2 linked regions of the Homo sapiens genome follow. The protein of the gene in region 1 purifies or fractionates together with the protein of each later gene. This does not show direct contact. Each region holds a gene or a part of one and is shown on either strand. Other genes may lie near its edges.

What was found.
Region 2: the proteins of MAPKBP1 (region 1) and CREB3L2 purify together in Homo sapiens (co-immunoprecipitation; one large-scale study listed by IntAct). This does not show direct contact.

Annotation. Positions count from the first base shown.
Region 1 is NC_000015.10:41,776,477-41,781,679, forward strand, and holds part of MAPKBP1 (mitogen-activated protein kinase-binding protein 1), read left to right. Parts: intron 1-5,203. UniProt on the Homo sapiens protein: Negative regulator of NOD2 function. It down-regulates NOD2-induced processes such as activation of NF-kappa-B signaling, IL8 secretion and antibacterial response. Involved in JNK signaling pathway.
Region 2 is NC_000007.14:137,904,587-137,908,937, forward strand, and holds part of CREB3L2 (cyclic AMP-responsive element-binding protein 3-like protein 2), read right to left. Parts: intron 3,851-4,351; coding exon 3,666-3,850; intron 1,263-3,665; coding exon 1,116-1,262; intron 1-1,115. UniProt on the Homo sapiens protein: Transcription factor involved in unfolded protein response (UPR).

The sequences.
Region 1 (5,203 bases):
ATCACAGTTTGCTACAAGGTTTTGTGATGGTGGACATTGTGACCCTTCCAAGGTCTCTTATTCATCATTGTTTCTATTCTCCTGAGGCAGGCAAAGAAGCCTGAAATGTAGAAATTGCCTTAGATATGACTCTGTTCATTCTTAATACTGCAAGTGCTCTTATTCTTGGCTGGTAGCTTGGCAGTGACCAGCACTGTTAGAGCAATCTTCTCCAATCTTTGGCCTCTTTTTCTGGCCAGGAATGATATATGTAGTAGAAACATATAATGAGAGTTTAGCCTTCATTGTTAATTCTTACTGTAATTTTGGTCTGGAATCCAGAAAGTATAGTTGCCATTCTTTAAGACTTCCAATATCATCCATTATTAATGCATTTAACAAGTGTTTATTGAGTGCCTATGAAGTGTGCAATCAGTGATGGGTAAAACATTACCCTTGCCATCAAAGAGCTTATGGCTAGTCAGACATGTAAACAATTAAAACACGGTGTGGTAAGTGCTGCTGTAGAAGTATGTGTACGTTGTTAATGGAAGCACAGGGGAGGCGACCTAAGTCAGTTCAGAGGAATTAGGAAAGGCTTCACAGGCCAGGCATGGTGGCTCACCCCTGTAATCCCAGCACTTTGGGAGGCCAAGGCGGATGGATCACTAGGTCAGGAGTTCGAAACCAGCCTGGTCAAGATGGTGAAACCTCATCTCTACTAAAAATACAAAAATTAGCCGGGCGTGGTGGTGCATGTCTGTAATCCCAGCTACTCGGGAGGCTGAGGCAGGAGACTCGCCTGAACCCGGGAGGCTGAGGTTGCAGTGAGCTCAGATCCTGCCAGTGCACTCTAGCCTGGGTAACAGAGCAAGACTCCGTCTCAAAAAAAAAAAAAAAAGGAAAGGCTTCACAGAGGAAGGGATGCTTGAACTGTGAGTCCTAAGGCAGGTGGAGAAGAGCTCTCCAGGAAAACAGTGGAAAAGGGGCATCCCTGGCAAGACCATTTACCATTCCCTGTTTAAAATAGGAATTCAGTGCTTCAGACTGCTTTAGATGGCTTTGTCTGTCCTGAAGCTGTGTATGAAAGAAATACTTAGCTGAAGTTGAATGACCCTTGAATGGTCTGGCAGCAAAATGACTGGTGCATATCTTTAGCACCCAAGAGGAGTAGCTGTCTTTGTGCGCCCAGGACCCTAGAGATGCCAGACTCCCCACACTCCTTAGTAAAAGGTCTCTACCTGAGATTATTCTAAAAGCCTGCCTTGTGATTACTCTAGTGTATTAAGCTCTGTGAGTTGCTCTAACATGTGGTGGCTGTGAGTAATCATGATAACAGGAAATTTGTGATTCATGGATAGCTAATTCTCAAATAAAATTTGAAGACAAAAAGGTACATGCCCCTTTTGGGGGGCAAAGAAGGAAATGTCAGAAAGCTTTTATGCAGCTCTTACTTCAGATGGCCTCCTGCTTTGAATTATACTGTTCTTTCTATCTAAAGTAGCCTTCTCCTTTACACCAAATTGTACACTTATTTTTAGGTCCAATTCTGTATTTATCAGAGCCACAGGGCTTTCTGTGACTAGTCCCCCACCTTGAAACCAATATCTTATTGTTATTTTATGTATGTCTTCATTTCCTAAGGATCGGGGTCATGCTCTTTATTTCCTTTACATCACACCGTTTAGGACAGTGTAAGATAGGCAGTAAGTACTAAAAAAAATAAATGAGACTAATTTAAAGATGTCAAATATAGTGCGGGATAAACTTGGACATCCAGGTGAATAAAATAATCAGGAGGAATTTATGACCTCTTTAGAAGAGAGATCAAAACTACGATTAATAAAATGGTGACAAAGAAGTAGAGATGCAGCCTAATTAGGTGTGAAGAACATAAGAGAGAAGAAGTCCACGTATGCAGAAAGCAGTGCTCAGTAAAGGGTTCTTAATTCAGGGGAGACCTAGTTAAAAATATGGCTAAAAGCTGGTGTGAGAGAGCCAGTGGAGGTGGAGATTTAAGTTACATCAAAGAGTAGATGAGTGCTGAGATTTTTATTAAGCTTTTTCAGAGGGAGGGGAGTCTCTTCAGTGGAGTACATTGGAAAAGACTGATTTAAAGTTTTATGCTAAATCAGCTTAGTCTTGGTGAAGTGTGACTTGAAGTTATCAGTAAATACCCAAGTTCAAATCCTGTAGACTTGTCATTTCCTGCCTCTCATCTCTAAGTTGGGCTGTGTTTTCCTTAAGAAGCAAATGTATGTGTTCTTGATAGCTAACCCTCCTCCTCTGAAAGTTTCTGAAAGATTTTTATGTGGAGGGAGCTGGGCTTGTTTTCAAGGACAAAGGATAGAAATGGACCAAAGCCCAGCAGGCAAGATTTAAGTTAGGGTTACAAAAGGATTGTCTGTGCTGGAGGGTTGCTAGATTTTTAAAAAGTAACTGAAGGAGGTATTGAGATCGTCCTCCTCCTTAAGAGCCATTAATCTGATCTAGGTTATATTATTCCTTCTGGAAACAATGGGTAAGATGACTTTCTTCTAGTTGTGTTTTTTTAATTGTAAATCTAATTCTTCTTTCTCTATTTGTTTCCCCAAGTTTTTTTCCTGTATAGTTGTGTGGTGGTACTTCGAGCCTTTTGAGAAGTGACTCTAAGAAGAGTTTGGTTGGGTGGGTTTCATGAAGGAGAAAAAGTGGCAATACTCTAATTTCAGCTTTTGCTCAGTGTTTGAACGCATATATGATTTGGTATTGGGGAAACATACTCATTTTTTTCGAGACGGAGTCTTGCTCTGTTGCCCAGGCTGGAGTACAGTGGCGTGATCTCGGCTCACTGCAAACTCTGCCTCCCGGGTTCAAGCGATTCTCCTGCCTCAGCCTCCTGAGTAGCTGGGATTACAGGCGCGTGCCACCACGCCGGGCTAATTTTTTTATTTTTAGTAGAAACGGTGTTTCACCATGTTGGTCAGGCTGGTCTCAAACTCCTGACCTCGTGATCTGCCTGCCTCAGCCTCCCAAAGTGCTGGGATTACAGGTATGAGCCACCACGCCCGGCCAGTTATTTTTGTTTTTTGTAGAGACAGAGTCTTACGATGTTGCTCAGGCTGGTCTCAAACTTCTGGCCTCAAGGGCTCCTCCTGCCACAGCCTCCCAAAGTGCTGGGATTACAGGCATGAGCCACCATGCCCAGCCCCTGCCTTTCTGAGTAGCTGGGACTAGTGGTGCTTGCCTCTGCGCCAGGCTCCAGTCATTTCTTAGTGTTCAATACACACGCTCTGAGTTCTCCACATAGAATAGATGACTAAGAGTGGATGTCCCTGTGGCCAGCAGCTATGCCCCTCACCAGCCTTTGTGAATGACCTTCAAAGCTCTTGTTGAATTTTCTGTCTCTGAGGTCTCTTGAAATAAGGCTTGTGAAGTGTCTTGAGATCCTCACAACAGGTGGTATACAATGAAAAATGTCAATGTTCTCCTAGTTTTGTTTCTTTGATCACCATTTCATCCCTCCTTCCGGTGCCTGCAGCTGCCCTCAGCCTTCAAAGTGATTCTCACTGGAGAGAGAGGATGCTTCTCTCCCTGGACCCAACACCTCTTCATTTACTGTCTAAAAATAGCCCAGCCTCTTCAGGCTGGGAGTTGTCTTTCGAAACCTCCTCTCACCTACTTGGCCTCACTCATTTCAAAGTGGAAGAGCACTACTGCTTTCCAAGTTTTTCTCTCTTTCAGTTTGCAATTTAGGGCAGGTTCCCTTCTTGGATTTGAGTCAATGTCTTATTTCCTGCTGGTATTTTGAATGTCTTTCATTTGTCACCTGTGTATTTTCATTTCTTGACTGATGAAAAAACAGGTAGAAATGAGGCTTCAGCCTGACATCTGTAACCTCCCCACCAACCCTCTGAGTCTGAAGTTGGGCTTGATGCTGTTATCACTGACCCTTTGTTTGGAGAAAACAGTCCAAGGTTTGAAATTGGGGCTATGTTTATTCAAACTAAGCTTCTCTGAGCACATGGTCTGTCCCACTCATCCTCAGAGTATCCGTTGGTTTTACTTCATGTTCAGACTGCAGTGTTGTTAAAGAAATAAAGCTACAGTGTTTTCAGAAGGATTTGTTATATTATACTTCATGTTCCCACTGCTCCAGGCTAAGCGTCTCCTCTGGGCTCCATTGTTTAATGCAGGACAAAGCCAGGTTTTCTGGCAGCTTCCTTTTCATAGCAATTCTCAGTAGAGGTATAGAATGAGACCTGCCTACCTTCTTGGGTGTTTATTACCCCATTTGTGGATTTTACTTTAACTTCTGTTACCTTAAAAAAAAAAAAAAAAGTTGGTGAGGAAGGCAAGAAATAAAAGTGAGTATGACAGCCAGACTGGGTAGTGTGGATTTTTAGCGTTGGTATTTTTGAATGTCCAGATTTTCCAAATCCTTCCTTCCTTCCTTTCAACAGTTATAGCAACAGGTCCAGTGCTTCTTCATTGGTCACATTATTTTCCTCTGGTTTTGAAGGACACTTAACAGAAGAATGAGTTTACAGTATGGATAGCTCCTCCTAGATTTCAAGGGAGTAAATTCCCCCCTCTCATTTTGTCACAATGTTTGCAATGCTTTTTTTTTGCTTTTTTTTTTTTCCTTTTTTCTTTTTTGAGACAGAGTCTCACTCTGTCACCTAGGCTGAAGTGCAGTGGCGTGATCTCAGCTCACTGCAACCTCCACCTCCCGGGTTCAAGTGATTCTCTTGCCTCAGCCTCCCGAGTAGCTGGGATTACAGGCATGTGCCACCATGCCTGGCTACTTTTTGTTTTTTCAGTAGAGACAGGATTTCAACATGTTGGCCAGGCTGGTCTCGAACTCCTGACCTCAAGTGATCTGCCTGCCTCGGCCTCCAAAAGTGTGCAATGCTTTTTTTGGTTGCTTCCCTATTTGGTAAAACAATGCTGTGGGTTTTTTTGTTTTTTTTTTTTTCTTGCTGGGATTTTAAAGTTTATATGCCTTATCTCTCCTCCTAAAACTGTAATGAAGCTAAAGATATTTTCCTTTCCCTGCTATGCCGGGCATGGTGGTGCACACCTATAGCCCCAGCATCTTAGGAGGCTGAGGCGGGATGATTGCTCGAGCCCAGGAGTTTGAGGCTGCAGTGAGCTATGATGGCACCACTGTATTCCAGCCTGGGCAACAGAGTGAGACCCCATCTTAAAAACAAACAAAAACTGTCTGCCCCTCTGTTTATAA
Region 2 (4,351 bases), on another chromosome or scaffold:
CCGGGAGGCAGAGGTTGCAGTGAGCTGACATTGTGCCACTGCACTCCAGCCTAGGTGACAGAGAGAGACTCCATCTCAAAACAAAAAACAAAAAACAAAAAAATTAGCCGGGCATGGTGGCACACGTCTGTGGTTCCAGATGCTTGGGAGGCTGAGGTAGGAGAATCACTTGAACCTGGGAGGCAGAGGTTGCAGTGAGCCGAGATCATGCCACTACACTCCAGCCTGGGTGACAGAGTGAGACTCTGTATGAAAAAAAAAAAAAAGAAAGAAAGAAAAGAAAAGAAAACAATGGACACTGAGTGAAGAGCCAGGCCAGAACATGTGGCTCACAAACCATCAGTGTGGTCTCAGATAAATGAGTTTAACTCCTGGACCTCTGCTGGCTGAAGTACATATATAAAATAAGACAGCTGGCTTGGTCATACATCAACTTGCTGCTGGTTCCGCACATGGATAGAGTGACACTAAGCTCTTGTCTTCCTTCCCTCTTTGCCCCCTCCCTCCTGGTAGGCCTGTGCCTCAGCCATCCCCCTGGTTTTCATCAGGCCTGCTCAGCACTGAGGGGCCCAGGGGTAGGAGACTACTGAGTCCAAATATAGACCAGCAAACTGCAGAAGTTTTGTGATCACAAAACCCTACCAAGAAAAAAAAAAATTAACCAAGCACTTGCAATGTATTTGTATCTTATATATATATAATATATATATATGCTGTATTTTATATAGATACATAGAGTACATATATATGTCTACTAGAGGAAACTATTGTATATATCATACACCCAAAATTTAAAAGGCTGAGTTAAAAAAAAAAAAAAAAAACTAGATGGAAATTCTAATAGCTTCCTCCCACCCGTAAATGTATCATCGTGGGCACCAAAGAGGTAGATACTGATCTGGGAGTCTGCTGGCCTCAAGAGGGATGGGATGGGCTGGAGGAAGAGAGGGGCACGTGGTGAGGGTGCTCCTCCCAGGGCTTAGGGAAGGGAAGGGCTGGGCCTTGGTCTCCACCATGGGATGGGGTAGTGCTGGCCGTTGGGAAGGCAGGGAAAGGGATGCTGACTCGATTCTGCTCGTCTCTGCTCTAGAAGTGCCTAGATTTGAAGAGCTCACCTTATTCTTGATCTTCCTCCGAATTTTCTTCAGGGCCTTCTCCTCTGATTTTGACAGGGGCAATTTGGTGGGGATGGGATAGCCCTCAGCGATCAGGGTCCTCTTCTCCTCCTCTGTCAGGACCAGAGGGCCTGATCCCTGCAGTTTCTGTGCAGACCAAGGAGCAGAAAAGGGTCAAAGAAAAAGAACTGGGACCACTGAAGAATCACCTCCCAATGGGATGATGAGAATCTGTTACAATGTCTTACAGAAGGCTCTGAGACAAGGATGCCCCATCTGCTTTGGGTGACAGATGGGTATTTTGAAGGGCATGGGAAGATGGGGAAGACACCCCCATGTGAGTGTTATAACCTAGGGATTATAATTCAAGGGAAAGAATAAAGAAGCCTCCACCCATTATTTCCCGGGAAGCACCCTACTCGCTAAAACATGAAAAGAAAAAGCAGAGAAGTCATTTCCCACATCCCTAGAGATTTCCTGGCCTTGGAGTGATGAAGGATTCATTTGCAGCCCTGCTTTGTGCAAGAATTTTGTTGTTCTCCTTCTGAAAATGCAGTTTTATAAGGTGCTCTCTACACAACAGGAGTCAATTCTCTCCTCCACTTTTAGCTAAGAGTGCAGAGCACCCAGGGACACATCTGCAGACTCTTTCCACAGAAGCCTCTGGCTTCAGCAGTCTCAGAATGTCCATCAACAATGAAGACAAGAACAGTAGCACATCTCATGGAACCCACAGTAGAATGGCATGTTTATAATTAATCAAACAGAGTCCCTATTGCATTTTAGCTCCATACTAAATGCCATGGAGGACTCAAAACAAACCCTACCTCTCAAGCAGCTTGTGATCAAGACTGTGAGACTGAACTGATACCCATGAAAGGATAAGAGTAATTAAATGCTAAACTGTAATCTTAGCTGATATGGTTTGGCTCTGTGTCCCCACCCAAATCTCATTTTATAGCTCCCATAATTCCCACGTGTTGTGGGAGGGACCCAGTGGGAGATGACTGAATTATGGGGTGAGTCTTTCCCATGCTGCTTTTGTGAGAGTGAATGAATCTCACAAGATCTGATGGTTTTAAAAAACAGGAGTTGCACTGCACAAGCTCTCTCTTTGCCTGCTGCCATCCATGTAAGACATGACTTGCTCCTCCTCGCCTTCCACCATGATTGTGAGGTTTCCCTAGCCACGTGGAACTGTAAGTCCAATTAAACCTCTTTCTCTTGTAAATTGCCCAATCTCGGGTATGTCTTTATCAGCAGCATGAAAATGGACTAATACATTAGCTAAAGGTGTACTAAAAATTTGAAGTAAGAGAACACTACTATGAGTTGTGTGATCAGGAAACGTTTAGGGCAGGAGATGAGATTTGAATTGGGCCTCCTGAAAGAAAGGGGATGATTTACATAAGAGAGAGGAGTGCATTCTAAGCAAAAGGCAGTATTTTGAAAAGTCACTGAAGAAGCCACTGCCTAGTGTGGGTAAGGAGTTCTTGAAGCAGCGGAGGGTTGGATACCTGATAATGAGTAAAGGTGTCAGGGCTTGGTACCAACAAGTAACAGGGAAATACAACATAGTTGTTGGGCAAGCATCCGACATGGGGAAGAGTTCCTCCATAAACATGTAGAATGGACAGATCATAGTAGTACACACAGGTATATAGGATACAAGCTATTCTAGTAATCCAAGGAGTGAAGTCAGGTTCAAGGTGAAAAGGTGAAGAAAGAGTGGAAGGGTGAATTCCCTTGTCCTCAGTAACGATGAAATTTAAGAATGTGGTTGCAGATCTAGAACTTTCAGGGACAGAATCAATACAAATTTTCAAAGTTATGTTAATTAATGGACGGATGGTACTTACAGAATTTTAAAACATCTCATTTCATTTAAATTTTCTAGTTGTGAGATTGTGAATTCAAAATAGCTGATTATAATTTTTAAAATTTCATAGAAATCAATTCACTCCTAGAACAATAAGGAGTTAACGATCTATTCTTCTTTATTATGGTGTCCTCATGTATGGGAGGGATGAACGAGGGGTCTTGATGTCTGATCTGAGTTTCTGGGTTAAGAGTCATATGACACACAGAAAAGGCTTAAACTGTTTTTGACCTTTAGGCATCAAAGAAATTAATCTCAGAGTAATTTTTAAGTTCACCAAAAATTGCTTCTTTAAAATATAAAAGGTATTTCCTATGACATAGGTCACAAGGACCATTAAATTAATGCAAATATTTATGATAGAACTTTGAGGAGAAAAACCCCAAATTTTTATTCCTCATGTCTATAGCTCTGTAAAATAAACATATGAATAAAAACTGGAAGTGTGCATGTGAAAAGGAAGAGAATTGTGGTAGTAAAAGGTGAGATGTGCGGGCAGTTCCTAGAAAGTGTTCTTTAGGGTTGACATCACTCTGCTTTCGCCATTAAGCAGAAACTTCTTGACAAAAGTAAAAACCAAACAGCCTTGAGTGGTCCTGCTCTGGATACAGCCCCAGGGGAATGAATGGAGAGGGTTCCCTTTGGTCCAGGAATGCCCGCTGCATACTTACATGAGGAGCCGTGAGGAGAGGGGAGCTGGAGAGGGCGGAGGGGGCCCGGGGTGCAGCTCTGGAGGGGCTGTGGGTCTGAGGCAGGCTGAAGGGGTGCAGGCGTGGGTTGGGACTCAGGCTGCCCTCTGAGTCACTGCCGTGACTGCTCGGAGGGGTGGGCGGCAAATGCAGGTGGTCCACTGGGGCTGCAAAAAAGGAAGCACATCTCATCCATCCCAGAGCCACAAAGCAGGACACAACTGATTTGTGGCATAGCAAACTAAAGTGTGAGGGGCCTCCATGAGCTGACCTGGACAGATCTCCAAGGTGCAGAGCGTGGATATGGGAGTCCTCCTTTTGTATGAAAAAGGAGAGAAAGAGGATATAGACCCACATTTGCTTATACTGGCAGAAAGAAACACTGGAAGTGAATACAAGAAACCAATAAACGTGCGACCAGGGGCCAGGCAAGGTGGCTCATGGCTGTAATCCCAGCACTTTGGGAGGCTGAGGTGGGCAGATCACCTGAGGTCAGGAGTTTGTGACCAGCCTGACCAACATGGCGAAACCCCATCTCTACTAAAAATACAAAATTAGCCTGGCGTGGTGGCACGTGCCTATAATCCCAGCTGCTACTCAGGAGGCTGAGGCAGGAGAATCGCTTGAACCCAGGAGGCAGAGATTGCAGTGAGCCGAGATCATGCTAA